4 linked regions of the Homo sapiens genome follow. The protein of the gene in region 1 purifies or fractionates together with the protein of each later gene. This does not show direct contact. Each region holds a gene or a part of one and is shown in the gene's direction. Other genes may lie near its edges.

What was found.
Region 2: the proteins of STAT5A (region 1) and PDHB purify together in Homo sapiens (affinity purification with mass spectrometry; 3 studies listed by BioGRID and IntAct, with this or other methods). This does not show direct contact.
Region 3: the proteins of STAT5A (region 1) and PDHA1 purify together in Homo sapiens (affinity purification with mass spectrometry; 3 studies listed by BioGRID and IntAct, with this or other methods). This does not show direct contact.
Region 4: the proteins of STAT5A (region 1) and PPARG purify together in Homo sapiens (affinity purification with western blotting; 2 studies listed by BioGRID). This does not show direct contact.

Annotation. Positions count from the first base shown.
Region 1 is NC_000017.11:42,291,474-42,298,508, forward strand, and holds part of STAT5A (signal transducer and activator of transcription 5A), read left to right. Parts: intron 1-498; coding exon 499-588; intron 589-4,145; coding exon 4,146-4,320; intron 4,321-7,035. UniProt on the Homo sapiens protein: Carries out a dual function: signal transduction and activation of transcription. Mediates cellular responses to the cytokine KITLG/SCF and other growth factors. Mediates cellular responses to ERBB4.
Region 2 is NC_000003.12:58,430,833-58,438,558, reverse strand, and holds the start of PDHB (pyruvate dehydrogenase E1 component subunit beta, mitochondrial isoform 1 precursor), read left to right. Parts: upstream 1-4,726; 5' UTR 4,727-4,749; coding exon 4,750-4,791; exon of another isoform or gene 4,792-4,874; coding exon 4,875-4,928; exon of another isoform or gene 4,929-4,964; intron 4,965-6,574; coding exon 6,575-6,682; intron 6,683-6,765; coding exon 6,766-6,828; intron 6,829-6,930; coding exon 6,931-6,966; intron 6,967-7,616; coding exon 7,617-7,726. UniProt on the Homo sapiens protein: The pyruvate dehydrogenase complex catalyzes the overall conversion of pyruvate to acetyl-CoA and CO(2), and thereby links the glycolytic pathway to the tricarboxylic cycle.
Region 3 is NC_000023.11:19,353,925-19,360,959, forward strand, and holds part of PDHA1 (pyruvate dehydrogenase E1 component subunit alpha, somatic form, mitochondrial isoform 1 precursor), read left to right. Parts: intron 1-566; coding exon 567-659; intron 660-1,424; coding exon 1,425-1,580; intron 1,581-1,761; coding exon 1,762-1,833; intron 1,834-3,727; coding exon 3,728-3,795; intron 3,796-4,991; coding exon 4,992-5,100; intron 5,101-5,564; coding exon 5,565-5,729; 3' UTR 5,730-6,824; coding exon of another isoform or gene 6,825-6,909; 3' UTR 6,910-7,035. Other genes in the region: MAP3K15 (mitogen-activated protein kinase kinase kinase 15), read right to left, coding at 6,825-6,909. UniProt on the Homo sapiens protein: The pyruvate dehydrogenase complex catalyzes the overall conversion of pyruvate to acetyl-CoA and CO(2), and thereby links the glycolytic pathway to the tricarboxylic cycle.
Region 4 is NC_000003.12:12,432,057-12,434,866, forward strand, and holds the end of PPARG (peroxisome proliferator-activated receptor gamma), read left to right. Parts: intron 1-1,841; coding exon 1,842-2,089; 3' UTR 2,090-2,288; downstream 2,289-2,810. UniProt on the Homo sapiens protein: Nuclear receptor that binds peroxisome proliferators such as hypolipidemic drugs and fatty acids.

The DNA of each region.
Region 1 (7,035 bases):
TGGGAGGCCGAGGCGGGTGGATCACCTGAGGTCGGGAGTTCGAGACCAGCCTGACCAACGTGGAGAAACCCCGCCTCTACTAAAAATACAAAATTAGCCGAGCGTGATGGCACATGCCTGTAATCCCAACTACTCAGGAGGCTGAGGAAGGAGAATCGCTTGAACCCGGGAGGTGGAGGTTGCAGTGAGCTGAGATCACACCATTGCACCTTTAGCCTAGGCAACAAGAGCAAAACTCCATCTCAAAAAGAAAAAAAAAAAAAAGAGAAAGTGCCTCATAAACTGTGGGTTTTTAATTCGCTCCAAACCAGATATGAAGATCTTGGAGGGGAAGATGAGGATGAGGAACAGAGATATAGAGGTGTCTGGGGATAGTTCCTGAGGCTCCCTGGGAAAAGCTGAGGCAGAGGCTGAAGGAGAGGAAGGGCTGGGCATAGCATGGGGCTGGCATGGCTGGAGCAGAGGATGGCGCTGGAGGCTACTGTTGGATTCTTTCAGAAAACATATGACCGCTGCCCCCTGGAGCTGGTCCGCTGCATCCGGCACATTCTGTACAATGAACAGAGGCTGGTCCGAGAAGCCAACAATGTGAGTGTCCCTTGGGGATGGGGAGGAGTGTTGAGAAGTCCCTCCATATGCCTTTCTCTCCAGAAACAACTGTGTTTATATAAAACAGCAGCACGAGGAGAGCACCAAGAAGATGAGGGACGTGGGCAAGTGTAAGAGGTGGCAGCATTGCACGCCGGGGTGGAGTGACCCCCTGGATCCAGTCCCTGGCTCTACCACTTACTAGCTGTGTGACTTGAGCAAGTTGCTTAATCTCTCTGAGCCTCTGTTCCTGTTTTTTTTTCTTTTTTCTTTTTTCTTTTTTTTGAGACGGATTCTTGCTCTGTCACCCAGGCTGCAGTGCAGTGGCGTGATCTCGGCTCACTGCAAGCTCTGCCTTCCAGGTTCACACCATTCTCCTGCCTCAGCCTCCCGAGTAGCTGGGGCTACAGGCGCCCACCACCATGCCCGGTTAATTTTTTGTATTTTTAGCAGAGATGGGGTTTCACTGTGTTAGCCAGGATGGTCTCAACCTGACCTCGTGATCCGCCCACCTCGGCCTCCCAAAGTACTGGGGTTACAGGCGTGAGCCACCACGCTTGGCGCCTACTGTTTTTTCCCCCCCGAGATGCAGTCTTGCTCTGTTGCCCAGGCTGGAGTGCAGTGATGTGATCTCTGCTCACTGCAACCTCTGCCTCCCAGGTTCAAGCAATTCTCTTGCCTCAGCCTCCCGAGTAGCTGGGATTACAGGTGCCCACCACCATGCCCGGCTAATTTTTTTTGTATTTTTAGTAGAGACGTGGTTTCACTATGTTGGCCAGGCTGGTCTTGAACTCCTGACCTCATGATCCACCCGCCTCGGCCTCCCAAAGTGTTGGGATTACAGGCGTGAGCCACCGTGCCCGGCCTGTTCCTACTCTTGTAAAATGGAGATAGCAATCATACCTATCTGTGTCAGAAGAACTAACACAGGCAGGCTCAGAGAAGTGAGGCCCAGGGAGGGGTAACAGGGACACATCTCCCCAGTTCTGAAATAATAAAGGCACTGGGCATCTACATGGACAATGGCACAGTGCTGTACTATCTGCAATAGAGCAAAATGAATTTCACAACATGACGTGACAGAAATCTTAGAACAGTGACCGGAGCACAGGTCATATTTATTATTTCTTTCTTTATTTGTTTGTTTGTTTATTTATTTTTGAGACTGAGTCTCACTCTATCATCTAGGCTGGAGTGCAGTGGCGTGATCTCGGCTCACTGCAACCTCCACCCCTTGGGTTCAAGAGATTCTCATGCCTCAGCCTCCCAAGTAGCTAGGATTACAGGGGCCCACCACCATGCCCGGCTAATTTTTGTATTTTTAGTAGAGACAGGGTTTCACCCTGTTGGCCAGGCTGGTCTCGAATTCCTGACTTCAAGTGATCCACCTGCCTCGGCCTCCCGAAGTGCTGGGATTACAGGCATGAGCCACCACGCCCGGCCTATTACGTATTTATTGTTGTGGACATGGATTTCAGGATTTACTCAGTAGACATTTATTGAGGTCTTACTGTGTGTCCGATGCTGGGCTATCATCAGAGAAACACATAAAGGCCTGGTTCTTGCCTGGAAGGAATTCTGGCAGTGATGGATTCTCTAGAGATGAGCTGAGTGCTAAGGGGGCCTAGGTGGAAAAAGCACCCAACTCAGATTGGGGCAGGCTGGCAGGGGAGCGTCCTGTGGACAGGCATGTCTGAGCTACAGTGGAGAAAGGCAGGAGAGGAGGGATGAATTTTCTAATGAAAAGACAGCAGCTGCGAGAGCAGGAGGGCATGAATCTTCTTATCACATTGGAAGACTTGTAAGTGGTCAGTGTAACTGGGGAGAAGGAACCAAGTGGGGAGTTGCCATGGATAAAAATAGATAGAGAGGGCCAGGCGTGGTGGCTCACATCTGTAATCCCAGCACTTTGGGAGGCCAAGGTGGGCGGATCACCTGACGTCAGAAGTTCGAGACCAGCCTGGCCAACATGGTGAAACCCAGTCTCTACTAAAAAATACAAAAATTAGCTAGGCGTGGTGGCGGGCGCCTGTAATCCTAGCTACTCGGGCGGCTGAGGCAGGAGAATTGCTTGAACCCAGGAGGGGGATGTTGCAGTGAGCTGAGATTGCACCACTTCACTCCAGCCTGGGCAACAGAGCGAGACTCTGTATAAAAAAAAAAAAAATAGGGGTTAGAAACCAGGTCACAAAGGGTCTTCCAGCACAGCCCCTGTGTCCCTGACTTGTTGCCATCACAGAGCTATCTGCAAACCTAAAAATGACTTCAGCCTCATTGACAAATCCATGTCCATGGTGCTGGTGCTGTCATGGTCTGGGAGCTCATTCCTTCCTCCAACCATACAACTGTTCCTGAACACCCCTGGCATTCTAGGGCTTGGGGATTCTGTAGTTCACAGGAAAGGCAAGGTCCTAGCCCTTGGGAACCTCACATCCTTGTGCAGGGAGACAGACAGAAACATGTAAGCAAATACAAGAACAACACACTTTTAGATAGGACTACTGTGAATTGGCTCGTCAGAGATGACCCCTCTGCAATGGTACCAGTTAAAGTGCTTTGCCTCAGGAGGATCTGATGCCAGAATGTTCCAGACTGTTGGAACAATAAGTGCAAGGGCCCCAGGGCAGGAACATGCCTGTGTGTTCAAGGAACAGAAACAGAAAGCACACATTCCCAGCGAGCTGGGGTTGGAGGTAGGCAGGGCTATGGCCAGCAGACACCATGGGAAGGGGTTTGGATTTTATTCTGAGAACAGTTCATTGGAAAGCCTCTGAGGACTTGTTCCTCTTCATCCATGTGCTCCCTCCCTTTGTGACCTGGTTTCTACCCCTCTCTCTCTATTTTTTTTTTTTTTGAAACGGAGTCTCGCTGTGTTGCCAAGGCTAGAGTGCAGTGGCGCAATCTCGGCTCACTGCAACATCCCCCTCCTGGGTTCAAGCGATTCTCCTGAATGTGCTGAAGGAATGGCTGGATCCAAGGGGAGCTTGTTGATGCCTCCCCTCTAACTTCATTTCGGGGTCTCCAGGATGCCTGTGAGAGTTTCGGCCTCTTCCCTCTTCCTTCAGTCACAAGGGGGTCTTAAGTGAGATGGTGTGTGTTCACACAGCCCTGTTCCTCCCTATGTCCCTAGGATCTACTGCAGTCCATGGTATTGAGTCAGCAAATAAATGTAGAGCGAGGGGTCATCATCATTAGTGGGAAAACCCAGGTGACACCTGGGACGTGTTGAGTTCTAGTCCCTGGGAGGAAATTAGATGGACCCTGTTTGGAATACTCTAGTGGAGGGCAGCTCTGACATAGATATTTGGACTTTGAAGGTGTTACTATCTGCCGTTATCTGCCAGGTCACCTGTTTCTCCTTTCTCTTTCCCTTTTCTATCCCAATTCTGGCAAATGACTCCTTCTGATGCAAATGATCCTTCCTTCTTGCCCTAGTTTCCCTTCTTACCCTAGTTTGGGGTTTGGGGTTTGGGGTCTGTAGTATTGGTGTTTCCTAATGCCTGTGGTCTTCTCCCATCCTCTCTTCCCCGAGTTATTTCCATTCCATCTGTCTCCAGTGCAGCTCTCCGGCTGGGATCCTGGTTGACGCCATGTCCCAGAAGCACCTTCAGATCAACCAGACATTTGAGGAGCTGCGACTGGTCACGCAGGACACAGAGAATGAGCTGAAGAAACTGCAGCAGACTCAGGAGTACTTCATCATCCAGTACCAGGAGAGCCTGAGGATCCAAGGTGAGGCGCGGTGGAGGCAGTGTGCATCCGGAGGGTGGGAGTGAGGAACATTCTATGGACTCCTAGAGGGTAGAGCTGGGTCAGTGTCCATCTCCTCAGCACTTTGCCCAAAGCCTGGTAGAAGCAATGGCTCCCGGTGATTGAGCCCCTGCCGTGGGTCACACTTGGCACACATTATTTAATTCAACCCTCTCAACAAGCCTATGAAGTGAACAGTTGTGTTATCCCCCCTTTTGCAGATGGTAAAAGTGAGGTTCAAAGAGAACAAGTAACTTGGCCTAGGTTGCCTGTAAATTACAGAACTGGATCTCAACTAGAGATATATCATAAAACTCCTGTACTTTATTAACCAGTATTCTCTCCTTAATGGTATGTATTCTGTAAATATCGACACAAATAGGTAAATATGAACAGTGCTCCCTAACCAGAGGGAGGACTTGGATTGGAAGTCTTCTGGTTGAACCAGGCTGGGAGAGGTGGAACTTCCAAAGTGGGCCTTCTTGAGCCTCACGGATAGGATGTGGGCCTGGGGGAAGGGGTGACAGTAGAAAATTCTCCTGTATCCTAGGTCTGTAGTTCGCCAATGGCTCCCATGATAAAGATGTGGGGAAATTAAAAAATCAAATTAGCTTGAAAGGAACTATCCCCAGGTACAATTTGAGGAGTCATGGGACATGGCCCATCTATTAATATGTCCCATTCCAGACTGACCCCAGAAATGTAACACCTCATCTTAGTGAGAACAAGGGGTGTCAAACTGCTTTTTCCTTTACTCTTTTTAATCTGATTTCTTAAGGTAGACCTTAGGTCATTGATTTTAGACCTTTCTTCTTTTCTTTTCTTTCTTTTTCTTTTCTTTTTTTTGAGACAATCTTGCTCTGTCGCCCAGGCTGGAGCACAGTGGCATGATTTCGGCTCACTGCAGCCTCTGCTTCCCAGCTTCAAGAAATTCTTGTGCCTCAGTCTCCCGCATAGCTGGGACTACAGGTGCAGGCCACCACGCCCAGCTGATTTTTTTAGAATTCTATTGTAGCTATTTAAGCTCTCTTCCTAACCCTGCACTGTCAGTGCTTTGTGTACACTGAGACCAGCACAATGCCTGAATATTGCAGCTATTATGTAAATACTTGCAGGATAATTCTAAATGTTTGTTTGTTTGTTTGTTTATTTATTATTGCCCAGGCTGGAGTGCAGTGGCACGATCTCATCTCACTGCGACCTCTGCCTCTCAGGTTCAAACTATTCTCATGCCTCAGCCTCCTCAGTAGCTGGGACTACAGACATGCACCACCATGCCTGGCTAATTTTTTTTTTTTGTAGTTTTAGTAGATACAGGGTTGTGCCGTGTTGTCCAGGCTGGTTGCAACCTCTAGCCTCGAGTGATCTGCCTGCCTCGGCCTCCCAAAGTGCTAGGATTATAGGCGTGAGCCACGGTGCCCAGCCAATACTGACAGGATAATTCTAAGAGAATTTCCCCTCATCTGAATCTATCCCAGACTGGCCCTAGAAGAAGGGCAGCTCCTTCTGAGAATGGAAACGGAAGATTTTGGGCGGTTATTCCTACCCAAGTCCTTAGACTGTCGACAGTATTTCTGATCCCGTGCCTGGCTTTTCTGTTTCCTGTGCATGGTGGCGGATTAGGTTTGGATTCAGGTTGGGTTTGGATCTATCATGCAGTGTCTTCTCAGTCCCATTTGTCAAGTTCACTCAGCAGAAACACAGACTATTGATCTGCTTTTGCCAGGGAAGGCTCAGCTGCCTCCAGTGGAGTAGGGAAATTGCTTCCCGTCTCCCTGGCCTCCTTCCTAAAAGCTTCTGCAAATTTCCAGGAGAGCCCTAAGTGGGTCCCTTGCATAGGAAGGCTGGGCCCAGGTGTTGGGATCACCACCACCCTCCCTGTGGCTGGGCAGGATACCCGAGGTAGCCGTGCAGACACCTCGGATCTGTCCGTGCCTGGATGATCCTCTTCCTGCTCGATACCTGCAGTGAGATTGGAGCCATATTTCTGAGTTCTAGCTCTGGGCTGTTCCTGGCTACATAGAGTTGCTTTTGTCTGTCCCAGCTTGTGCATCCCATGGGTCAGGGCTGGGGTCAGAGTGACGTGGCCCTCAGGGGCCAGCCAGGAGCTCGACCAAGACATGCTGGTGCGCGCATCTTCTGACTCAGCTCAAGCAAGGACGCTGGGCTGTTGAGAAGGTGATGGGAAGGGATTAATAGTCCCAGTGTGGTGGAGACGGGCTGTCGCTGGGAGGGTGGGGTGGGCCTGCGGTGGTGGTTGTAACTGTGGACATGTTTACTTTCTTAGCCTGGGTTATTGATACACAGGCGCCCTTGTGTTCCACATCCCCTGTGTCTTACGTATTTCATAATGGATACTTTTTTTTTTTTGAGATGGAGTCTTGCTCTGTTGCCTTGGCTGGAGTGCAGTGGTGCTCTCGGCTCACTGCAACCTTTAACCCCGGGTTCAAGCAATTCTCCTGCCTCAGCCTCCTAAGTAGCTGGGATTACAGGCATGCGCCACCATGCCCAGCTAATTTTTGTATTTTTAGTAGAGACAGGGTCTTGCCATGTTGGCCAGGCTGGTCTCGAACTCTTGACCTCAAGTGATCTGCCTGTCTCAGCCTCCCAAAGTGCTGGGATTACAGGCGTAAGCCACCGAGCCTGGCACATGATGGATACTTTTTTTTTTTTTTTTTTAGACAGAGTCTAGCTCTG
Region 2 (7,726 bases), on another chromosome or scaffold:
CAATATAGTTATTTGCATAAGTGCAAATAAGTATCTGTTTTCTTTTGCAACAGGACACAATTGGAGAAACTGGTTATTTTATCAAGGCTTTGACTGGAATGGCATGTTTTCTTTTAAGGAATTAAACTTAACTTATAGAGCCAATAGAAGCCCCTTGGGGAACTGGCCTCATACCTTGCCTACACAGTCCTTGTACAGGATTTCTGACCTGTGGTAAGTAAAGAATGTCACTTTCTAACAGACCCAGGAACTCCAAGTTATCTTGGAACCTCAAGAAGAGAGGAATTTACCCAACTCATACGTATTTGAGGGTACAAACCCATGGCAAAAAGTCTTATCTAAGATTCCTTCTTTGGAACAGAGTTCCAGGAAAGCCAATTTAAAAAGAGCTTATGTGGCTGGCTGTGGTGGCTCACACCTGTAATACCAGCACTTCGGGAGGCCAAGGTGGGCAGATCACTTGAGGTCAGGAGTTCGAGACCAGCCTGGCCAACAAGGTGAAATCCTGTCTCTATTAAAAATACAAAAATATTAGCAGGGCACGGTGGTGGGCACCTGTAATCCCAGCTACTTGGGAGGCTGAGGCAGATGAATCGCTTGAGCCCAGGAGGCAGAGGTTGTAGTAAGCCAAGATCGTACCACTGCACTCCAGCCTGGGTGACAGAGTGAGACTCCATCTCAATAAATAAATAATAAAAAGAGCTTATGTGAAAAATAATTATTCTTGCTACACTTTATATAAATAATCAGGCCAAGTATAACAAAGCAAATCAGTCTTACCAAGATTTGCCTTTAGTAAAAATGGGAAACTGGAGAGAGAAATATAATGTTTCAAGAACTTATGGTACACTGGTTATTAGATTCTAGTCTCATCAGTTGTTTTTAAGTTTGTTTCTGCAATTTAGGCTAACCCAGCTTATTCCTGTGAACCAACCAGTGATCTCTGACTGCTGCTCAAAACAAACAAGAGTGATGGTGTCAGGTCTCTGAGCCCAAGCCTGCACGTATTCATTCAGATGGCCTGAAGCAAGTGAAGAATCACAAAAGAACTGAAAATGGCCGGTTCCTGCCTTAACTGGTGACATTACCTTGTGAAATTCCTTCTCCTGGCTCGTCCTGGCTCAGGAGCTCCCCGACTGAGCACCTTGTGACCCCCCACTTCTGCCAGCCAGAGAACAAACCCCTTTGACTGTAATTTTCCACTACCTACCCAAATCCTATAAAACGGCCCCACCGCTATCTTCCTTCGCTGACTCTCTTTTTGGACTCAGCCCGCCTGCACCCAGGTGATTAAAAAGCTTTATTGCTCACATAAAGCCTATTTGGTGGTCTCTTCACATGGACGCGCATGGAAGATGGGTAATGTAAAAATCTGAATCGATATTCTAATTCTGAACACACTGGAATCAGCTAGCAACCCCACATCAGCTTGGTTCCAACAGTTGCCCAGTTCATGGAAAGCCTTCTAATTTAGTTTACTTGGGATAATTTTACTTATTTTGCTTTACTCTTGTGGAATATATTGCTATTGTACTCTTTGTGTAGGAGTGCAGGATAAGCTTACTGAATGTTTTCTTAAACTGAATACTTATTAATCTTCCAGATATCACCTTTTGTCAGAACTTGGAGTTATGAATGGCCCTCACTATACTGATGTTTTCTGAGCTCCTCTCTACTCTGAACATAAGGGACCCTAATAGTTAAGCAGGAATATCATCACCCCTATTCAGCCTGAAGAAGTTACAGAAGATGCATCTTCATCCCTCCGAAACTTTTAGGATTAAAGTTTCTCTCATAATAGGGAGGAGGCAAATGTCAGAGGAATGTGAACCAGAGCAACTCCATCTTGAATAGGAGCTGGGTAAAATGAGGCAGAGACCTACAGGGCTGCATTCCCAGACAGTTAGGCATTCTCAGTCACAGGATGAGATAGGAGGTCAGCACAAGATACAGGTCATAAAGACCTTGCTGATAAAACAGGTTGCAGGAAAGAAGCTGGCCAAAACCCACCAAAACCAAGACGGCGATGAGCATGACCTCTGGTCATCCTCACTGCTACACTCCCACCAGCGCCATGACAGTTTATAAATGCCACGGCAATGTCAAGAAGTTACCCTATATGGTCTAAAAAGGGGAGGCATGAATAATCCACCCCTTGTTTAGTATAAAATCAAGAAATAATCATAAAAATGGGCAATCAGCAGCCCTCAGGGCTGCTCTGTCTATAGAGTAGCCATTCTTTTATTGCTTTACTTTCTTAATAAACTTGCTTTTGCTTTGCACTGTGGACTTGCCCTGAATTCTTTCTTGTGTGAGATCCAAGAACTCTCTCTTGGGATCTCGATCGGGACTGCTTTCCTGTAACATCTCCTTTTGCTTGGCAAATCTGATCCTGAAATCTTTTGGTGCTAGGTTGTGGGAAAGGTGGGAAGGACTGATTCACTTTTTCATTCTGAGCACCACCCACAAACTTTTGGGGGCTGAAATCTCAAGTTCAGGAGTTTCTCAGGGATGCTGTGGCAGTCTAGGAAGTGCTGGCCATTCCTGAGGCCCTGGCAGGGACAGTTGGGACTAGACGATGGTGGCAGGTGAGGGAGACTCAGAAGGTGTTGATTCCATATCTTGAAGATCTTCTATCCATTTTACAGATGAAACAGTCCCAGAGAGTAAATGTCATCTCTATGCAGCTGTCCCCAAATTTCTACCTTTAGCCCTGACTAGGCCCTAGGCTCCAGGCAACCTGGGTATGTCCCAGTCATCTAAAGAATAAAGGCTGGCTGCAGTGGCTCATGCCTGTAATCCCAGCACTTTGGGAGGCTGAGGCGGGTGGATCACTTGAGGTCAAGAGTTCAACATCAGCCTGGTCAACATAGTGAAAACTCATCTCTACTAAAAATAAAAAAAATTAGCCGGGCATGGTGGCAGGTGCCTGTAATCCCAGCTACTCGGGAGGCTGAAGCAGGGGAATAGCTTGAACCTGGGAGGCAGAGGTTGCAGTGAGGCCCACTGCACTTCAGCCTGGGTGACAGAGTGAAACTCCATCTCAAAAAATAAACAAAAATACACTCTTACTTCCCCAGCTCCTGGCACTTACACTGCCCCAGGCTCCTCCCTTACCCCATCTATCCATCCAGCAATGACAAAAATCCAAAATTTTCCTCTGCTCTTCCCTAGCACTTACAGCATTCCTATTGATTCTAGCCCAAATAGATCTCAAAACTGTCCCCCTCCTCTCCATCTGGAAGTTGCCTCCTAGTCTGCCTCTGTTGCTGCCACAGACTTCCCAGCATCCGCCTGTTCTGCCTTTGCCTCCACCCCCTCCCATTCCCAGTCAGCAACCTACTGGAAGTTGCAAATTCCTAATTTGGCAGCCTGCAGCTGTGATCCATAGAAGGGAATGTTTGGAATGTCTTGGGGATGGGTGGAGACTGGGTGCTCAATTGTCCCATCTGACCCCCAAGGGCCAAATTAAGACTAATGAGCTTCCAGAGGTTGTCCCTATGGCCAAGTGTTTGGCACCTCCCCATAAGGGAGGAGACCACCCCTCATATTGTCTTATGCCCAATTTCTGCCTCCAAAGAAAGAAAAAGTAAAAACTAAAAGGCAGAAATGAAATCCACAAACAGACAGCCTGGTGCCACACCCTGGGCCTGGTAAAGATCGACCCCGACCTAATCGGTTATGTTAACTATAGATTACAGACATTGTATAGAAAAGCACTGTGAAAATCCCTATCCTGTTCCAGTCTAATTACCGGTGCTTGCAGCCCCTAGTCACATACCCCCTGCTTGCTCAATCAATCATGACCCTCTCACGCACACCTCCTTAGAGCTGTGAGCCCTTAAAAGGGACAGGAATTGCCCATTCAGGGAGCTCGGCTCTTGAGACAAGAGTCTTGCCCATGCCCCTGGCCGAATAAACCCCTTCCTTCTTTAACTCGGTGTCTGAGGAGTTTCGTCTGCGGCTTGTCCTGCTACATCCATAGGGCCGCCCTTCTCTAAAGTTGTTGTAACCTTCCCCCAAGCAGGAATCCACTTCTGCTTTAGGAAGCAGTGGGAAAAAGACCATGCTTTAGAGTCAAGACAGTCCTAAATTAAAATATCGGCTCATTTAATCAATTTCTGCTTCAGTTTAACCGTCTTCAAAATGGAGATAATAATAACACTAATTACCCAAGTGGGGTACTGTGAGAATGAGCTATACAGCACATATCTCAATGCTTGGCTCACAGTAGGTGCTTAATGCAATCAATGAAAGCTATGATGTGCATTATAAGGAATCAACAGACAGCACTGTCCAGGGAAGACTAGACTCACTCATGAAGTGTTAAGTTCCCCATCAGTAGAGCGTGTGCAAGCACTTCTTGGTGCCCAAAGGATTCCAGCACCCACAACAGGTTGGCCTAACTCTTAAGGTCTCTCCAGCTTCCAGAGATCATGCTCCTCAGGGTCTGACTTCTAGTCCCCACGCTTCAAGTAACACCGACCAGGCACGTGTGCCCAGCGTGCACCCCGCCTGTCGGTCACCGCCTACTGTCAATAAAGTTGATTTGAGGCGGCTCCAGGCAGAGGGGCACGGCCACCCACACGCCACCTCAGCCCGGCCCCGCGGCCCCTCACCCGGTGGGCGGGTGGGCGGGTCACGCAGCCGGCGCGCCTTGCCATTGGCCCGCGCCGGTGGAGGCGGGGCCTGCTCACGTCTGCCGGCCCCTCTGTTGTCGTTTGGCAGCGGATAGAGGACACGACCAAGATGGCGGCGGTGTCTGGCTTGGTGCGGAGACCCCTTCGGGAGGTAGGCAGCAGCGCGCGGCCTGTATTCCCACGCGACCCCTGCCCACCCTGCGTCCCGCCGTCATCTTCCTCTCTCCCTGCCAGGTCTCCGGGCTGCTGAAGAGGCGCTTTCACTGGACCGCGCCGGCTGCGCTGCAGGTAACAGGCGCGGGTGCTCGTCGGACGAGGGCGGGGAGGGTCCCCCCTTCTCTCGGGAAGGAGGCCGGAGTCGCGCCTGCGCTGTGGCCTTCCGGCGCCGTGGGCCTTGGGTTTGCGGAGCCAGCATCCTCCGTGGAGCTCCTGCTGCCTCTGTCGCCGCCTGGCAATTAGCACACCGGCGAGTCACCACCTCACAGCTGGCTGGGCAATGGGGGAAAACTAAGACTAGGCGTTTCCTCCCTCACTCCATGTTTTTTTCTTTAAATTGCAGCAAAATAGACCTAACTTAAAATGTACTTTTTAGAAGTGTATAATTCAGTGGCATTAAGTACATTCACCATGTTGTACAACCATTAACCACCATCCATTTCCAGAACTTTTTAATCATCCCAAGCAGAAACTGTCCATTACTCGGTAACTCCTCATTTCCCTTCCCCAAACCCCTGGTAACCCCTGTTGTACTTTTCTGTCTTTATGAGGTTGCCTATTCTAGAACTTCTTATAAGTGGCATCATTTGTCCTTTTGTGTCTGGCTTATCTCAGCGTAATGTCCTCAAGGTTCATCCATGTTGTAGCATGCGTCAGAGTTTGATTCTTTCCTAAGGCTGAATAATATATATATGTATATTTTTTTGAGATAGTCTCCCTCTGTCACCCAGGTTGGAGTGCAGTGGCGCGATCTCAGCTCACTGCAACCTCCACCTCCTGGGCTCAAGGGATTCTCGCGCCTCACACTCCTGAGTAGCTGTGATTAGATGCCGGTGCCACCACACCGGGCTAATTTTTGTATTTTTAGTACAGACAGGGTCTCACCATATTGCCCAGGCTGGTCTTGAACTCCTGGCCTCAAGTGATCTGCCTGCCTTGGCCTCCCAAAGTGCTAGGATTACAGGCATGAGCCACCTCGCTCAGCCCGACATTTTCTTTTTTTTTTTTGAGACGGAGTTTTGCTCTTGCTGCCCAGGCTAGAGTGCAGTGGCACTATCTCAGCTCACTGCAATCTCTGCCTCCTGGGTTCAAGCAATTCTGCCTCAGCCTCCCGAGTAGCTGGGATTACAGGCACCCGCCACCACACCCGGCCAATTTTTGTATTTTTAGTAGAGAATGGGTTTCACCATGTTGGCCAGGGTGGTCTCGAACTCCTGACCTCAAGTGATCCACCTGCCTTGGCCTCCCAGAGTGCTGGAATTACAGGTGTGAGCCACCGTGCCTGGCCTTGTTTTGTCTATTGTGAGTAATGCTGCTGTGAACATTGATGTGCAAGTATATGCTTGAATCCCTGCTTTCAATTATTTGGGGCATATACATAGAAGTGGAATTGATGGATTGTATGTTAATTCTCCTCTCCTTCCTTTTTTTAACTAGATTTTACCATTCATTATATTAAAAGAGCAACTCCTACATTCTGGATGCAAAGTATTTGGCAGTACTTGGCACCTAGTGAGCACTCAGTACATTAACACATGCAAAGACCAACTATGTGTAATAGAAATGTTACTTTTAGAATTCTTTGAGTTTTTAGAGAGAAGCTTGTTCTAGTGTTTTTATATTGTATGCTGTGGGCAGCCTAGGTAAATATAAAGGAAGAAAATCTTAGTTGAATCCCAAACAATTCTGTATTGACTGTTTTTGCATACCTGTGACAGGTGACAGTTCGTGATGCTATAAATCAGGGTATGGATGAGGAGCTGGAAAGAGATGAGAAGGTATTTCTGCTTGGAGAAGAAGTTGCCCAGTATGATGGGGCATACAAGGTAACTAAAATATATGAAAGTTATACAAAATTGAGGTCACTGTTACCCCCAGATACACTTAAGGGATCAACTCTTAATTGTAGGTTAGTCGAGGGCTGTGGAAGAAATATGGAGACAAGAGGATTATTGACACTCCCATATCAGAGGTAAGCCTTCCAGTGGGAAGCAGACCCTGGAGGGCATGTCTGTTAGTGTCCATTATCCTCATTTTTATGGATTTTCACTTATGTTTATATTTTACTTTATAGATGGGCTTTGCTGGAATTGCTGTAGGTGCAGCTATGGTATGTAATACTCTTTATGAAACTTATCCAAAGACATTTCTTGTTTTCTTTTTTTTTCTTTTGAGACAGAGTCTCACTCTGTTGTCCAGCCTGGAGTGCACTGGCACCATCTCAGCTTCCAGGTTCAAGCAATTCTCCTGCCTCAGCCTCCATAGTGGCTGGGGTTACAGGTCGCGCCACTGTGCCTAGCCAATTTTTGTGTTTTTAGTAGAGATGGGGTTTTACCATGTTGGCCAGGCTGGTCTTGAACTCCTGGCCTCAAGTGATCCGACCGCCTTGGCCTCCCAAAGTGCTGGGATTACAGGCGTGAGCCACTGTGCCCATCCCCAAAGAGATTTAACATCACCTTTTAAAAACATCATTTGGGAAAAAAAAAAAATACCAAGTAGGTAGATGTGGTGGTGCTTGCCTGCAGTCCCAGCTACTCGGGATGCTGAGGAAGGATTACTTGAGCCTAGGAGTTAGAGGCTGCAGTGAGCTATGATGTGTGCCACTGCACTCCAGCATGGGTGACAGTGAGACCCTGTCCATAAAAAATAAAAATAAAAAATAAAAACATTATTTGAATGTTGGAAGACTTGGAGTGATTTGTTTGCTACTGTTTGTTGCTGTTTCTAGTCTTTTTAACATCCACGTTTTTGATTTTACAGGCTGGGTTGCGGCCCATTTGTGAATTTATGACCTTCAATTTCTCCATGCAAGCCATTGACCAGGTTATAAACTCAGCTGCCAAGACCTACTACATGTCTGGTGGCCTTCA
Region 3 (7,035 bases), on another chromosome or scaffold:
ATGTGTTGTTTTTTTTTAAACCTAGGTTTTATTTTTCCTTTTGAAATGGAGTCTTGCTCAGCCGCCCAGGCTGGAGCAGTGGTGTAATCTCAGCTCACTGCAACCTCCACCCCCGGGTTCAAGCAATTCTCCTGCCTCAGCCTCCCGAGTAGCTGGGAATATAGTTACGTGCCACCATGCCCAACCATTTTTTGTATTTTTAGTAGAGACGGGGTTTCACCATCTTGTCCAGGATGGTCTCGATCTGTGGACCTCGTGATCTGCCCAAAGTGCTGGGATTACAGGCGTGAGCCACCACGCCCGGCCAGGTTTTATTTTTTAACTCTTGAATGCAGAAATGTTAGTGCTTACTGGTTAAAATAGAACATAGTATTTATATATTACTTTAGTGCTTTATTGAAAATATCGGAGGTGGGATAAACAGAGAGATAGGGTTGGAAGGAGAGTTTGTAGCAGCAGTGTAATTTCTGTGTCAGATTCTGGCCAGGAGTGAAAATGCAGGGCATTAATTAGTATCTCCCCTCATGGATTTCTGTGGTTCCTTTCTCGGTTGTCCTTAATGTTAGGTGCCCCTGGGCGCTGGGATTGCTCTAGCCTGTAAGTATAATGGAAAAGATGAGGTCTGCCTGACTTTATATGGCGATGGTGCTGCTAACCAGGTAATTATGTCTCTTAACTTCCCAAAAACAGTCTTATTTTCAAAGTCTTTAATATTTACAGTTGAATTTCTAAAGAAGTAGCATATTGCTTATTAGGTGAAATAGCAAGTCCTATGGCTAGCTCAAATTTGGTTGACTTATGGCCAGATTAGAGATTGACCTCTTAGCGTTGTTTCACAAGAGACTTACGGGGGCACATTCCTGTGAAGGAGCTCACCTTTGCTCTACATCAGTGCTTGGCAAAGGCCCTGTGGTAAAGGACCTCCCCACAACCTATTGCAAAACAATACAGACCCATTCTCTTGGATGTCCGGGCTGGCAGTGTCAAATTCGGATAATAGCGTCTGAGTCCTAACTCAGTTTCTATGCTTCTCTTGTTACCGAGTAATCCCCAGTCTGTGGCCAGCACTCTGTGAAGCCCTGTTCTAGAGGCTGATTCTTAGGTGCTGGTTCACTCTGGCTATCCAGTGGGCCTGATAGATTTCATATTGATCTTTTTTCCAGTGTGTTCCTTACTGCTAGCATGGCCCCAAAGAAACAAGTAGTAGTTGGTTTGTCACCTTCCTTAGTTGCAAGAGTATGATGCCTGCTACTTCTCCTCCACCACCCACCCCGCTTTCCCTCACCACCCAAAGCTCGGTTTTAGAAGAGGAGGCTTTCTGTGCTTTATGAAAGCTTTCTGTGCCAGGCAGAGCAGCAGCTGTTAGAGATGATGAAGCCTGGAGAAAGAAGCCAAATGAAACCCCTTTTCGTAACTACTTCCAGGGCCAGATATTCGAAGCTTACAACATGGCAGCTTTGTGGAAATTACCTTGTATTTTCATCTGTGAGAATAATCGCTATGGAATGGGAACGTCTGTTGAGAGAGCGGCAGCCAGCACTGATTACTACAAGAGAGGCGATTTCATTCCTGGGCTGAGAGTAAGGACACCTGTGGTGGGGCCGGGGCCAAGGCCAAGGCCAAGGGTATGTCCTTGTGCAGACCCTTGACGATCTTAGAAACATTGGAGAGTTTCATTCTCATACAGGAGCAGGTCATGTGAAAGTAAAATGGTTTGGGGCAGTTGGATTCATGCTTCGCCCCTCCCCTGTTTATTACCAGGTGGATGGAATGGATATCCTGTGCGTCCGAGAGGCAACAAGGTTTGCTGCTGCCTATTGTAGATCTGGGAAGGTAAGGCTCTAAAGCCCTCTGGGCTAGTGACATTTATCTCTGGAAGTTCAAAGACTGCCTCCCATGTGCCTGCTGAAGCTGTTAGTGGGTACCTGCTAATTGAGGTGCATGAGATGGAAGCAGAGTGAAGGGAGCAGGGCTCCTTTGGGTAGCTTGGTCTTGGTAGCTCACCTGCTGGGAAGCCTACGTTTCTCTCATTTGGGGGAAGTCCGTTCTGGTGCTTCCTCTGCTTTGGCCTGTCTTCATGACAACTGATTTGCCTTTTCCTTAGGTTAATTCTGTCCCTCCTCCCCACCCCCCATTAATCATGAGTCCCTTGAAGGAACAGATTGGGGATCCCCACAGTGTCCAGCATAGAATGTCATGTATACAATAGGCATTTAATATGTGTGTCTTATACAAATTAAACAGTATGGTAGAAGCTCGTAATCTTAGTCTTGCTCAGTCCTAAGGATCTTTCCCTTTTCAGTGTATGGCAGTGAGGGAGATGGTAAGAGGGAGACTGGCCTAAAGAGGTTTCACTTCCTTTGGCACTAGTATAGGCTTAGGAGGTTTGGGTGTTCTCCCTAAATCAGTGTTCTACAGCCCAGAAACAAGGTTTCTGAAGTTGGCACTTCAGCGCCATACCATGTACGTTTAGGCAGTGATGTGAATCAGATGTGGCCAGCAATGATGGAAATGTCACAAAGTGGAGAGACAGGGAAGTGAGGGTGGGAATGTAGTAACATTAAATAAGAGCTAATGAGTAGAATGAACTAGAGCAGGACCAAGACTACAGCTTGGGTACAATGGGCTGAGCAGTCTATGTCAGGACCCTAAGGCTGGGAGTGCCAGGCCCTGAGTGATGGGTATTGACGCCACCTCTCCCAATTCCTGAAAAGAATACATGGGGGCCAGCCCTGGCTGGAGACAAGGGGAGTTGTAGAATGTAGTTGTAGAATGTGTGACTTTCCCAAACAGATAACCTTCACAATTCTGAGTTAGGTGTTATTGTTTTGCCCATTTTGCAGACAAGGAAACTGAGCCATAGAGCAGTTAAAGGTACACAGCTACTCTGTCTTGGAGCCAGCTCCCCACTCGCCCATTTTAACTGCTGCACCAAACCAACCAAGGATCCTCAATGTTTCTCCACCCCAGTGTTCAGAGCCGTCTCCTGGAAGTGGGCTAGTGTAGAATGAGCGAGCCCAACTGTCCAGACTCCCAGCAGAGCCTTGGGGTTTGGGTAGCAGAGGTTGTTGGTGCCTGCCAACTTTGTTACACACTAGCAAGGTCTGTGAAGTAGGAGTGGCTGCCAGCCCCACAACACACCATGAGAAAGGAGCATGAGATGGAAATCTGTCTAGCCAATAGCAGGAGGCTCTAGAACATGCTCAGAGCCTTTTTCTTTTTTCACAGGGTCTCGCGCAGTGGCACACTCACAGCTCACTGCACCCTTGACCTTCCAGAATCAGGTGATCCTCCCAAGTAGCTGGGACTACAGGCGCACGCCACCATGCCTGGCTAATTTTTGTATTTTTTGATAGAGATGGGGTTTTGCCATGTTGTCCAGGCTAGTCTCGAACTCCTGGGCGCAAGTGCTCTGCCCACCTCAGCTTCCCAAAGTGCTGGGATTACAGGCATGAGCCACCATGCCTGGCCTTCAAAGCCTTTTTGATTCAAAACAAGCTGTTGGCAGATTGCCTTATTAAAAATGAGAAAGATGAAATATGCAATCAATACTTGCTAGAAATGAGAACAGATCAGTCAACCAATAAGAAATTCGTGACAACTCAGAAGATCTGATAAGACTACACTGGACGCTTAATAAAGGGCCTGCGTTTGAGGCCGTGGATTGCCGGCCTGTTCTTCCAGTCATCGTTCCTAACTAACTAACTGCCTACCGGTTCTGTTTTAGGGGCCCATCCTGATGGAGCTGCAGACTTACCGTTACCACGGACACAGTATGAGTGACCCTGGAGTCAGGTACGCTCATGGGCAGTGTGGTTTCCATAGGGGTGGGCTTTGAATGGTGTTACATGGCAAAAGCAACACATTTCAGTATTTGCTTTTGGAGCTAGATACCAGTTCACTTCATGTACGCAGTTGTGTTGGGCATCAAGTTATCTGAAAGCAGTGCCTCCTAATAAGAAAGCTTTCTGAAAATGCCTACAGTGTATAGTGTGTGTGAGCACAAGCAGCAATTTTTAAAGAAAGAGTGTTATATACCTTAATTGTAGAGGGAAATTGTTACATAAAACAGGGCTGATGGTAGTGTAGTATCTTGGGGGCATTTAGCTTTTGTAGGCATTACCCCAAGTCTACACCTGGCATACTCTACCTGAAGAGGATCAGAATTTGGAGATGTTCCTCTGTCTGGTATAGAGCTAAGGGTAACTGGGTGTTCAATCCGTTGAAATACATCAATCAAAAAAGCTAGGTTCCACTAGGAAGGCATGAATTTTACTTTTTTGCTTAGTAGCTCTGGCCTGTGATTCTGGAATCCCAGTTTTGACACAGTTGAATAAATAAGCCTTTGTAGAGTGGACTTCTAAGGAAAAATCATGTAGAGAGCACAGTATATGGAAAAATGCACTTTGTGTAAATCTATTGTTGAAAATGGTAGAATCCTTTTAGTGTTACTTCAGATGATATAGGCATAAGATACATTGGTTTTGCTGGCTGTGCTTCTTTAGGGGGACTTAAGGGAGAAAGGCAAGGCACATGGATTTCCTGCTTGGCGCTCTGATGTCTCAAAGTCTAATTATCACCACACACACCATCTCTGCTGTCCCCACCCATGTAGTATACAGGAGCCCAAATGGGTGGGACAAGTGACACTTCTTTAGAACCTTACATCTAAATCAAAGCAGCAAGCAAAAACTTGGCCCCTGTTGTCGGAATGCCAGGGAAGCCATGTGACTCACCAGTGTACGGTTTTCTAGAAAAGACAGAAGCAGTTATTACAGAATGTTAGGCTGCGTTCTGGTATTTTGAAAGTATAACAACAACTCTGCCACGCCTATAGTGACATAAGCATTGGTATGCCCCTTTGTTTCAGAAACACACTTCTGTATTTCACCTCATTGGGACAATCCAACCCCATATCATGTTTCATCACGCCGTCCTTGCTCTACTGGAACTGCTCTTACTGATCGATTACTACTTTTCCCTCCCCATAGTTACCGTACACGAGAAGAAATTCAGGAAGTAAGAAGTAAGAGTGACCCTATTATGCTTCTCAAGGACAGGATGGTGAACAGCAATCTTGCCAGTGTGGAAGAACTAAAGGTACAGTCACTTGTTCATGGTGGTTTGAAGGTTGGCTTTAAAAGTTGCCACCCCTGGGTGGCCACAGAGTTTGTGTGGGTTCCTCCAAGCCCAGAAAGTGATGTCCTGGGACATAAATAGTTCCATAGTTCCAAAGTCCCTTGGGGTGGGGGCTTTTCCTTTAGTTTCCTCTATTCAAAATTGTATTACTCTTCAGATTTCAGATTTTGGTGGACTGTGAACCACCATCACAGTGGCAAAGCCCCCACAGTAGTATGGTTCTTTTTTCCTAAAAGTATACTGTGGATTTTTAATTCATAAAATAGATACACCCTAGAAATCTGTATTCCAAAATCTTCTGAATTAGCAACTGTTCGTACTTGTAGTTAAAGAGTTACACCAGCAACAGGTCCTCAGCAGAACTCTAGTTGGTACCTAAGCTGCTGTTCATTCTAAAACCTTTTACACTGTTACCTAATTTTTAGGAAATTGATGTGGAAGTGAGGAAGGAGATTGAGGATGCTGCCCAGTTTGCCACGGCCGATCCTGAGCCACCTTTGGAAGAGCTGGGCTACCACATCTACTCCAGCGACCCACCTTTTGAAGTTCGTGGTGCCAATCAGTGGATCAAGTTTAAGTCAGTCAGTTAAGGGGAGGAGAAGGAGAGGTTATACCTTCAGGGGGCTACCAGACAGTGTTCTCAACTTGGTTAAGGAGGAAGAAAACCCAGTCAATGAAATTCAATGAAATTCTTGGAAACTTCCATTAAGTGTGTAGATTGAGCAGGTAGTAATTGCATGCAGTTTGTACATTAGTGCATTAAAAGATGAATTATTGAGTGCTTAAAGATTATTTTTGACTTAAAATAGTATACTTTGAACAAATACTCTAATTATGAAAAGGAAGAACAATTCCTTGTATGCCTGTTTCCCCTGCCCCCAGCCACCTTTTTGGGAGGAGACCATTATGGCGGGGCCCCTCACAGCATTCTACCAACCATAGCACCCACCCCGAGCAGCGCTGGTGCTGCAGCCTGTTCGCGCTGACCATTTCTCTACAAGATACAATATTTATTATCAGGCAAGAGGACAGTTCCATTTTAAAATAAGACTTTTGTAATCATTCCAATTTTGTAATCATTTCAAAGGCCACATAACTTAGTTTTCTCTACTTACACATTCAGTATAAATATGAAGCTATTTTCTGTTCATATCAAACATTAACTACAAGGCACATTCGTATCAGTTTTGTGTTTCTCAAATTGAAGTACCATACCAGTTCTGAGGCAGTGTCCCAGCTTCCATGTTTGTTAAATACCCCTTGTTTGTTTCACCATTCCAGCAAGTGCTGAAGGGTGTACTTTTTTTGAGACAGGGTCGGGCTCTGTTGCCCAGGCTGGAGTGCAGTGGTGTGATCATGGCTCACTGCAGCCTCCACACCTCCTGGGCTCAAGCAATCCTCCCACCTCAGCCTCCTGCATAGCTGGGACTACAAGTGAATTTCCTAATATTCCGGGAGGTCAAAACCAAGGCTCACTGTTTTCACAATACACACAGTTCTATGTTTATAAATAACAGGTTTCAAAAGAAACTCAGGACAGTATTTAAAACAAGTTCTTAAACTATTAATTGAACAATGGCATTTTTAAATATGTAAACACAGCGGAATTCGTGTATACACTAACAGAAGCTTTAACAAAACATGTAGCGTGGTGGGACACTCTGCCACAGCTTAGCTGATTGGTATCAAGCCTTGTCTTTGGTTTCTGAGGCCTCCTGAGCCCTTCTGTACTGGGAGACCGCACTCCAGAGTCTGCAGAGGAGACCACCCCTGGGAAACAAACACAGCTGTCTTCAGAGTCAGTGCTTCAAGCCAACAGAGCTTAAAACTGCAGTCCCTAATTTAAAAACCTAATGAAAATAAAAACATTCTCCTCACATATGGAGGTGACGCTCG
Region 4 (2,810 bases), on another chromosome or scaffold:
GCCTGAATAGATAAAAGCTATGGAAGAAAAATTAAAGATAGTGATAGATTTATCACCAAGCTCAGATGGTTCTGCAAACAAATTCTAAGAAACCGTCAGGGAACAGATCATTACTGCGTTGACACAGAAGGCAAACCTCTCAACTTGGTGTATAAGGCTAGTTAACATTGTTACTAAAACAGGCAAAGAATGGCCCCCAAAATAACTCTAAACCAGTATCACCTACAAATACAAAAACTCTATATAAAATATTAGCAAGTGAGTACAAGAGTATAAGGAACTCTATTAATGTAATTCACTGTGCTAGGTTAAGATAAAACCATAACTCTTCAGATATCATAGCTCTTTAGATAGAAAAATGTAAAAGTATTTGATAAAAATTCAACAACATTCCTGACTAAAACAAATTAAAATTGTAAAACCCCTGGAAAGCCAGGAGTAAAACATGTTCTCCATAATCTATAGCAAACATCATAGTTGCTGATAAACCATTAGAAGCATTTCCTTCAAAGTTAGGAATAAAACAAGAATTGCTACTATTGCTACTATTATTTAATCCCATATTGGAGGTTTTAGCCAACACACTATGGCAAGAAGAGGAAATGAGAAAGGTTAATGCTGCAAAAGAAGAAATAAATAAAGCTACCATTGCTGATATAATTATCTATCCAAAAAAAGTAGAAATCCATGATTAAAAGCTATTTGAACTGATAAAAGTTCAGAAAATTGGAATTGTTTCAATATACTAAAATCAATTAGTTTTCTGCACATCAGTGGGGATATATTAGATGTAATGAAAATGAAGGGTCCATTCACAATAGAAGCTATAAAGTATTTGAGAATAAATCTAACAAGATCTACATAAAGAAAAAAGTAAACTGCTTAAAAGTAATTTAAGTTCACCATTTGCAAATTGAACTAAAGAAAAATCTAAAGAAGAACTAGTGAAAATTGCTTGCAATCTTACCACTGAAAAGAAACCTCTGTTAAAATGTATCAGTATTTTAAAACTGTGTTTTGTCCTTTGGAAATATGCCATATTAAGCAAACATAGCATAAGCAAATTAAGCAAAAAGACAAACCTTTTTTTAAAAGCATATTTGTGAAAAAAGCATATTTGAAGCTATGATAAGAAACTGAGTAGAAGCTATAAAACGTAGATTCATCAGGAAGGAGCAGAAGTTGAAAAGGAGATTTCTGGCTGGGCACAGTGGCTCATGCCTGTAATCCCAGCACTTTGGGAGGCCAAGGCGGGTGGATCACTTGAGGTCAGGAGTTTGAGACAAGCCTGGCCAACATGGTGAAACCCTATCTCTACTAAAAATACAAAAATTAGAAAGGCGTGGTGGTGAGCACCTATCATCCCAGCTACTCAGGAGGCTGAGGCAGGAGAATAGCTTGATCCCGGGAGGCATAGGTTGTAGTGAGCCGACGTCATGCCACTGCACTCCAGCCTGGATGACAGAGCAAGACTCCATCTCAAAAAAAAAAAAAAAGAAAAGAAAAGAAAAGGAGATTTCTGAGTAGAAACACGTTAGCAGAGGAAACTTCATTTGGGGAACAGGATTGTTTTGATGCCATGCTCCCTCAGCTGACCACACAGATTACATCCTGGCCAGAAAAAGGCCCTGCAAAGAGCTCTGATCATTTTGGTTCTGATTCCATCCTTAGTTCTTACCCATTATCTGCTTACCCTTCCTCCCCACCTATTTAAGATACAAAGCAAAACAAACCAAAAATACAGATGAGTTGCTTGGTAGAGCTGCCTAGGCCTCCAAGGCGGGGCCCAGAGGATTTTTTGACTGAACCCCCTGTTGTGTTTTCCATATGTGCTTCCCCAGACCGCCCAGGTTTGCTGAATGTGAAGCCCATTGAAGACATTCAAGACAACCTGCTACAAGCCCTGGAGCTCCAGCTGAAGCTGAACCACCCTGAGTCCTCACAGCTGTTTGCCAAGCTGCTCCAGAAAATGACAGACCTCAGACAGATTGTCACGGAACACGTGCAGCTACTGCAGGTGATCAAGAAGACGGAGACAGACATGAGTCTTCACCCGCTCCTGCAGGAGATCTACAAGGACTTGTACTAGCAGAGAGTCCTGAGCCACTGCCAACATTTCCCTTCTTCCAGTTGCACTATTCTGAGGGAAAATCTGACACCTAAGAAATTTACTGTGAAAAAGCATTTTAAAAAGAAAAGGTTTTAGAATATGATCTATTTTATGCATATTGTTTATAAAGACACATTTACAATTTACTTTTAATATTAAAAATTACCATATTATGAAATTGCTGATAGTATTTGAAGACTGAGTCTTGTGTGTTTCCCACCCTAGCCCCCAGGCTTTCTTTTTTACCCCTTTTCCTTCTCCCCTCCCTCCCTCCATCCCTCTCACTCTTCCTCCCTCCCTTCCCTCCTTTCCTTCTTCCTTTATTTTTCTTTTCTTTCTTAGACATTTTAAAATATGTGAGTGGAACTGCTGATACACTTTCATTCTCAGTAAATTAATTTTTTACTCAATTTACAACTTTTCGGAACTCTGCATCTGCTTTAACAATCAGAACTAAGAAGGGAAGGGGAACTTCAGAATCAGAAACTGCTCAGAGCATGTGTTTTGTAGCCTGGATGTGCTGATATGCAGCATATCCCTGGGATTACCCAGAATTCAGTCTTCTTCCACAATCCTAACCGAGATTTTCACGCACCACCAGCAGCCTACTCGTATACTACCTACTAATCAATGCCACTGCGCACCCACAGAGCCAGTGGCCAGCAACTGAGCACTGCTAGAAACTCTGGGGAACACAGAA